Regions from separate parts of the Homo sapiens genome. Here region 2 is linked to region 1. The links come from fine-mapping of genetic effects on gene expression. A gene starts in region 1. The other region holds a variant in brackets. All regions are shown on one strand. Distances are from middle to middle.

Region 1 (4,406 bases):
CTCTGACATAGGTAGGGCAAGAGGTGTTACCTTCATTTTTCAAATGAAATAGACAAATTTTATTTTGGCACCCTGACTTTTTTTTTTTTTTTTTTTTTTTTGAGACGGAGTCTCACTCTGTTGCCCAGGCTGGAGTGCAGTGGTGCAATCTCGGCTCACTGCAAACTCCACCTCCCGGGTTCACGCCATTCTCCTGCCTCAGCCTCCCGAGTAGCTGGGACTACAGGCGCCCGCCACCACGCCAAGCTGATTTTTGTATTTTTTAGTAGAGACGGGGTTTCACTGTGTTAGCCAGGATGGTCTTGATCTCCTGACCTCGTGATCCACCCGCCTCGGCCTCCCAAAGTGCTGGGATTACAGGTGTGAGCCACTGCGCCTGGCCCTTTTTTTTTTTGAGACAGAGTCTTGCTCTGTTGCCCAGACTGGGGTGCAGGCACTATCTTGGCTCACTGCACCTTCTGCATCCTGGGCTCAAGTAATTCTCCTGCCTCAGCCTCCTGAGTAGTTGGGATTACAGGCACCCACCACCATGCTCGGCTAATTTTTGTATTTTTAGTAGAGATGGGGTTTCACCATGTTGGCCAGGCTGGTCTCGAACTGCTGACCTTGTGATCCACCTGCCTCAGCCTCCCAAAGTGCTGGGATTACAGGCATGAGCCACTGAGCCCAGCCTGCACCCTGACTTTTAAAGCCCCATCTCCCACTGGCCTTGTAGGATGCCATATATCTCTGGTCCTGCCAGCAAGCAAGGCCATGGGTGGCAGCAGCAGCAGCACTTGGGAGTCTGGTAGAAATGCAGAATCTCAGACCTACCCCAGGTCCCCTGAATCAGAATCTAAGGTTTATCAAGACGTGCAGGTGATTCATGTGCACATTCAAGTTTGAGAACATTGATCTGATCTGGGGATTCACATGAAGACATTACTGACTTAATATCATCTCCCAGGAAAAAAGCTCCAAGATATTTATTTAAAAAAAGAACTCTTGAAAGAGAAATAATTAGTCCCCAAGAATGAGTGATGGGATTCTAGGCATCTGGCCCCTTAGAGAGCTTTCTAGTTCCCAGAATATACAGGATCCCAACTCTTATAATCACACAAAAAGCTGATCTTGTTTTCCAAGCTGTCATAGAATGATGTTTCAGAGAGAAAAAATAAGAAGGAATAATATAAGAAAATAAGGCAACAAACTAAAAACCTAAAGTAGTAATTTGTACATGTTTTCCTTTCATAAAATATGCAAATAAATGTTTACTACATAGCTAGATGATAGCTAATCACACAAAGAAAAATATATCAGGGATGGGTGTGGTGGCTCACGCCTGTAATCCCAATACTTTGGGAAGCCTAGGTGAGTGGATGGCTTGAGCCCAGGAATTCAAGACCAGTCTAGCAACAGAATGAAATGCCATCTCTAAAAACAAAACAAAACAAAACCCCCCAAATCAGCCAGGCGTGGTGGCATATGTCTGTAATCCCAGCTACTCAGGAGGCTGAGTGGGGAGGATCGCTTGAACTCAAAAAGTTGAGGCTACAGTGAGCCGTGATCAGACCATTGCACTCCAGCCTGGGTGACAGAGTGAGACCCCATCTCTTAAAAATGAAACAAAACAAAACAAAAAAGAAGAAGTGAAAAACACATCAATCTGCTAACAACATTGAGTTCTATTTTTCCATATATAATTTGGTGCCCTATGACATTTCGGAGTCACTATAGACTGTCACCTCTGTTCTATTAGTTGAATTACCTTTTAACTATGAAAAGACTAAAACACTATCTATTTGGGCAAAAGTGTATGAAGTTTGTAAGTAGATTGCCTTTACAATATTATTCTTCATTCAATCTATTTAAAAAAATTTTCCCTGCAGTGCATTCCAAGACTACTTCATCAAATTGTTAATAACCTTAGACTTCAATTACACGTTGGCTTCACTTGGTGAGATTAGAAAAGTTTCATCAGAAACTGAATTAGTAATTCTAGAATCATATCTTGTAAGAGCTTTAGAGAAGATACAATACAAATTCTTTTACCCATGGAGAAAATGAAGCTCAGAGAAGAAATGTGATTTGCTCAAGGTCACACTCACAGTTTGGGGATTATTTGAGGCTTCATCTGAAAAACTCTTATTTCATCTTAGTTGTAAAGAAACCTGAACAAAGCCACAAACATCCTAAACTTCTGGTTTTCATGTTCAACCACAGCCTTTCCACAGGGACAACTTATGAATCAAGATTTTGGCTCAGACTTTTTCCTGAATGGCATCAACTCACCTTATCAACAATCTCCTGGATTTCTGGAGTGGCGGGTTTGGCCTCAGATAAGCCTCCAGGTATCATTTTGGCTGATTGCTTCTTTGCTGGACAGGATGCTGGAACCAAAGTGAACAGGGAAGTGTGGAGACTCGTGTTTTAAAAGAGGCGTTCACTAGCTCCGCCTATAGAATGCTTTATTTTCCACAAACAGCAAAGAGGCATGGGGAAAATGAGTATGCCGCCAGGCAAGTCTTCTTGCTTCCTGGAGAGAATATGCTACATGGAATTTGGAAGAAAGAGGGGTTGGAGGATGAACAAATGGGCAAGTACAGGAGTCATGTCCTAACAAGCATCAAACGTCCCTGCATTCTCTTTGACAATGGTTCCATCCTGTTGCATCATCTGAATTATGAAATCTGAAGCCGCAACTAGAATTTCCAAATGTTTTAAAACTTCTAACACAAAATTTTATTTTTTTTAAAGCAAAACTTACTAATAATGTCAAGGTTAGTTTAGAATTTACTTGACTTTAGAAAGAAAGCAAAAGGATCTATCTGGAGGACCTTGGCTGGATGTGTCTTCTTTACTCTTATTTAAATATCTGGAAATGTTTAACATACGGTAAAACACAAAGAATAAAATAACAAACATCTATATTTCTATCACTCAGAATTAAAACTTTTAACCCTTTTGTCATATTTGCTTGCTGTTTTTTATTTTTGTAGTTATTTTTAGGAAATAAAATATTACAGATATGGAGGAAGCCCCACACCCCACGCAACCTTGCCTTCCAGAAGGCAAAGTACATGGTGAATTAATATCCTTCCAGGCCATTTTTATATGTGTGTCTTTAAAATTAAAATATGTCTTACTTGGTGTGTCTTTAAAATTTCACTTAAATTGTATGCTAAATATATTCTATGTTATGTTCCTTTTTCTATTCAACATGTTTTTGAGCCTTTCTATGTTGATATACACATAGATCAATCCACAGATAGATCAATCCTGTTCATTTCCTTTAACTGTGATATGCTATTTTATGCTAGACCTATCTATTTAGTCTACCTATCTAATTGCTATATTCTAGTTCATATTTTACATACTCATTTCTCTATTGATGACGATTTTCGTTGTTTCTGGTGTTTCATTCTTACAAACAACGTTGCATTTTTTCTCCTTTTTACATGAGTGAGGGCTTCTGCAGACAACTTATCTAGAAGCAAAATGGCCACATTGTGTGAATATTTATGTATATTATTTTATTCAATTTTGGGAATATATAATACATACACAGGATAAAAATGTTTGGAAGGAACCAGGCTTTACAATATAAGGAATTATTCACTCACTTAATTCCTCAGACACCCTTCTACTCTCCAGAGACAATTATTGGCACCAACTTCTTCTGTATCCTTCAGAGACATTCTTTACACATACAAATATAAAAATAATTGGAGGCTGGGCACGGTGACTCACGCCTGTGATCCCAGCACTTTGGGAAGCCGAGGTGGGTGGATCACAAGGTCAAGAGATTGAGACCATCCTGGCCAACATGGTGAAACCCCATCTCTACTAAAAATACAAAAATTAGCTGGGCGTGGTTGCGTGCGCCTGTAGTCCCAGCTGCTCAGGAGGCTGAGGCAGGACAATCGCTTGAACCTGGGAGGCAGAGGTTGCAGTGAGCCAAGATCGCGCCACTGCACTCCAGCCTGGTGACAGAGCAATACTGTGTCTCAAAAAAAAAAAAAAAAAAAAAATTGGCTACACACACACGCACACACACACATAGATACATATTCATCTATATAGGTTTTCTTTTATAAAAATGGTATCCTACATAAATTATTATACTTTTTGTTTTATTCCTAACAATATATTTTGGAGACTGTTCTATATCACAATACAGGGAGGTGCTTGTTTCTTTATAATGATGTTTGGTGGGTGCTTGGCAAACTCTTGGAGCTAAGTGAGTGTCTTACAGGCTAAACTAAGGGGTGCTACACAAGTATCTCTCCATAGAATGCCTTTACCCTGTGGATTAAGAAGAACAGCGAATGTGGATGACAAGGTGCTCCCTCAAGAGGCCACAGGTCATCTGAAGACTTTGGCTCAGCTTTCATAGGCCACTGGTTCTACTCATCTTCATGTGACCT
Region 2 (4,406 bases), 210 kb after region 1:
TTCTGAAACTGAGTGTGACAGGGTAGGCAGGATTTCAGCACCCTTTCTCATTGTCCAAGGGTGCCCGGAATTATTAGTTTTGTTGCTAGAATCACAGTGGCTGGTATATCTGGATTAGTGCTGGGTACTCTCGGTTGTCTCTGCACCCTGGGGGTTATGACCCTATCTCTGAAACCAGGCTTGTGACTGAGGGTTGCTTTGATCCTATGGGTATGCAGTCAGAGCCTTGATATTCCTGAGAGCTTAATTTCTCAGGAGGGATAGAGGTACAGACTATCTGATAGCTTCACGTTGTGAAAGGACTGATCACCACGAACTTTTATGTATTCATCATGCATCAATCATTCTTTCAACATTTATTGAGAACCTGCTATATGCCAGGCACCATGCTAAGTGCTAGCAGCACAATGATGAGCTTAACTGGTATGGTCTCTGCTCTTCATAGGATTTAGTTAAGTCTAGTTTATAGAGTTTAATAAGATAATTACACAAATATGTAAGCATAATCTGGTGTTATTAAGAAAAAGCCAAGGGATCCACATGACACTGTAACAAGTTGACATTTTCTAGTTTGGGAAAGGGTTTTTAAGAAAGTGCTGCTTGAGGCAAGATCTGAAGAATGAGGTAAAGAAGTGGCAGAAGAACATCTAAACAGGGCCATAGCAAATACTAAGATGCTCAGGCTGAAGCAAACATGTTATCATTCCCCACTTCTTCATTTATTCATTCCACACATGTAGGATGCCCACTAATCTAGGCACTGTGCCAGGTACTGGGGTTACTGTGGCAGATAAGATGAAGCCCATGTTCACCACCTCTGAAGTCTTTGGTATTGACTTTTACTTGACCATGACAGAGCTTGTCATGCTTTCTGGGCATTGTGCATTGGATACCCTGTCATCCATTATCAGGTTATTTTCTTCCAGTTCTTAACTAGTTTTATTTTCCTCTCCCTCTCCATTAGTTCAGGTTTGCTGAGGTCTCAACATATGTTAGGCATAAGCCTATTCAAGTAACAGGCACTCTGGGGATTATACCTCTCTCTCATCAATGTCTCAGGGTCAGGATTTACCTTTTCTTGGTCTGTTCACTCTCTTCCCTCTCCATTGTGTTGGTTCCTGAAAGACACCAAGAACAATCTTCAAAAATGTATTCCTCCTAGATACCAAAAGAAGGAAAGTTTGAAAAGGCTTCAAAGTTCTGGGACTGAGAGAGAAATTGTTGTGACTTTATATATGGAAGAGATAGTTACTCAAATGATGCAATTTCAGGGGGATTGGGAAGAAGTTTCTTGCATTCAAAAAGTATATGCCTTCCCTTTCTCACTGTGCCTTAAATTCTAACACTGGAAATAGATTTTTCACTTATATCTCTATCCTGGCTAACCAAAAAATACCATTGGGAGGGGTAATATATTTAGTTTTAGCAATCATTTTGTGATTGGAAGAGTTTCTAATCCTTTTCTGAAAGCAAGGTTTATAAGGAGGAGGAGAAGAAGTCTTGAAGATGTTGATGCCTAAATCGGCTAGCCAGATGGTGCTAAGAATATTACACAATGTTGCATGGGCAAGGCCAAGTGGGAAATTTCTAGCCAGCTAGACCTCACAAAGCCTGAGTTGCTATTGATAGGGACTTGCTACTGACACAACTTGGGATGTAAATTTCTCTAGGCTGACTGTTGTGATGATGCTATTGTCCCACGTAAACTCCAACAGGTTGCTAACCTGGGTGTCCATGGAGGTATTTATAGACCACAAGAATCCACTCAACAATACCTCTGATGGTTTTGTGATTCTGTCTTTACTAAATAGAGCATTCTTGAACACTTCCTGTCACTGGAAGTTCTCTTTTATGTGTGTATGTGTGTATTTAAAAACAATCAGCTTTTATGAGGCCACAAAGTCATAAGAATGATATAATGGACTTGGGTACTTGGGGGGAAGAGTGAGAGAGAGGTGGATGAAGGATAAAAGACTACACATTGGGTACAGTGGACATTGCTCGGGTGACAGGTGCATCAAAATCTCAGAAATCACCACTAAAGAACTCATCCATGTAACCGAAAACCATCTGTTCCCCAAAAACTATTGAAATAAAATAAAAATAAAAGATAAAAACAATCAGCTTTATGGAGGTATAATTAATAAATAATAAAACCCAA[T/C]CATTTTCAGTTTAGAGTTTGGTGATTTTAACGAATATATATAGTCACGTAACCACCACCACAATCAAGATCGAGAACATTTTTATAAGCCAAAATAGTTCGCTTTTCAGCTGATTCCTTTCCCCCATCCCATGGATAACCATGAATCTACTTAAAATAGTTTTGCTTTTTCTCAAATTTCATATACATGAAATTGTATAATGTGTATTCTTCTTGTGCCTGGATTGTTTCACTTAGCATAATGCTTTTGAAATTTATCTATGTTCTTGTGTATTATTAGTAGTCCATTCCTTTCTATAGCTTTGCAGTATTTCATTGTATAAATATACCACCGCCAACTGATGAAAATTTAGAATGCCAGGTTTGGTATTATGAAGCAAGCTGCTATGAACATTTGTGTATGAGTCTTTATATATTTTTAAATTTTTTAAAATTTCTGTTTGGTAAATGTCTAGGATTTCTGGGTTGTATAGCAGTATATGAGAGTTTCAGTTGCTTCATATCCTCTCCAACACTTGATGTTTATCAGACCTTTTAATTTTAGCCATTCTAGAGGGTGTGCAGTGGTATCTCATTATCGTTTTAATTTGTACTTCCCTGATGACTAATGATGTTGTGACTGTGCTCATCGGCCATCTGTATATCTTCTTCTGTTATGTATCTGTTCAAGTCTCTTCTTCTTGCCTTTTATTAAATGGATTGTCTTCTTACTAATGAGTAGCAATATGTAATTATATACTGGATACAAGTCCTTTATCAGATATATATTTTGCAAACGTTTTCTCCCTGTCTGTGGTTTGACTTTTCGTTTTTTAAACAAAGTCAAAGAACAAAAGTTTTCCATATTGATGACATCCATTTTATCTTTTTATGATATGGTTTTTGCTTTCTGTGTCCTATCTAAGAAGACTTGCCTAACTTAAGGTTACAAAGATTTTCTCCTCTGTTTTCTTTTGGAAGTCCTTTCATTTTAATTCTTAATATATAAGTTACTTTGTGTGTGTCTAGGTTCATACTTTTTCCATGTGGATATCTAATTGTCCCAACACTATTTGTTGAAAATACTATCCTTTCTGCATGGAATTACCTTGGTAGCTTTGTCAACAGTGTGAATCTATTTTTGACTCTCTATTTTGTTCCATTGACTGATATGTCTGTCCTTTTACCAATATCACACTGTATTAATTACTATATATAGTAAATATTGAAATTAGGTAGGTTAAGTCCACCTTTGTTCTTTTTTTTTTTTTTTTTTTTTTTTTTTGAGAGGGAGTTTCACTCTTGTTGCCCAGGCTGGAGTGCAATGGCACGATCTCAGCTCACAGCAACCTCTGCCTCCCGGGTTCAAGCAATTCTCCTGCCTCAGCCTCCAGAGTAGCTGGGATTACAGGCATGCGCCACCATGCCTGGCTAATTTTGTATTTTTAACCTTTGTTCTTATTTTTCAGAATTGTTTTGGCAATTGTAGATTCTTTGCATTTCCCTATAACTTTTCGAGTAAGATTTTTAGTATCTATTAGAGAGCTTACCAGGATTTTGATTGTGATTACATTTAATCCATAGATCAACTTGGAGAGAATGGTTATCTTAACATCTAGTCTTCTGATTCATAAACATGGCCTATGTCTCCATTTATTTTGGTTTACTTTAATTTCTCCAGTAGTAATATTGTATAGTTTTCAGTATATAGACCTTGTACTTGTTTTGTTAAATTTATTTCCAAGTTTTTAATATTATTTGATGCTATTATAAATGCTATTAATTTTTTTCAATGTACAATTGCTTTTGTTAGTATATAGAAATAATTGATTTTGTGTATTGACTTTGTATCCTGTGTCTTTGCTACACTCACTTATCAGTTTTAATAGGTTTTTGATAGATTCCTCAGGATTTTCTACAAGCATGATCATTATCTGTGAAAAAAGACAGTTTTACTTCCTTTCCAATCTGTATGTCTTTTATTTCTTTTTCTAGTCTTGTTTCTCTGGCTATGACCTCCAGTACAATGTGGAACAAAAGTAGAGAGAGTAGACATCCTCCCCACATTCGCCATCTTAAGGTAAAAGCAATCAGTCTTCTATCATGAAATATTATGCTAACAGAAGAATTTTTGGTAGATGTCCTTTGTCAGGTTGAGGAAGTCATCTTGTATTCCTATTTTTATGAGAGCTTTTCTTTCCATTTAAAACTATGAATGGGTATTAATTTTGTCAAAAGTTTTTCCTGTATCCATTGACATGATCAT

Evidence for each region. PIP is the estimated chance that this variant, and not a neighbour inherited with it, causes the effect.
Region 2: its variant is the best candidate, but not a certain one, in a credible set for the expression of CSTA in vagina (GTEx, PIP 0.81).

Annotation. Positions count from the first base shown.
Region 1 is chr3:122,323,224-122,327,629 of GRCh38, reverse strand. CSTA (cystatin A) reads right to left here and starts at 2,382. Exons shown (of 3, transcript NM_005213.4): 1 at 2,272-2,382. The coding sequence starts at 2,337.
Region 2 is chr3:122,114,760-122,119,165 of GRCh38, reverse strand. CD86 (CD86 molecule) reads right to left here. Exons shown (of 7, transcript NM_175862.5): 6 at 1,073-1,118. Among named protein-coding and RNA genes, the nearest start is that of CD86, 62 kb to the right of the region's middle. The variant T/C (reference allele first, on the strand shown) is at 2,162.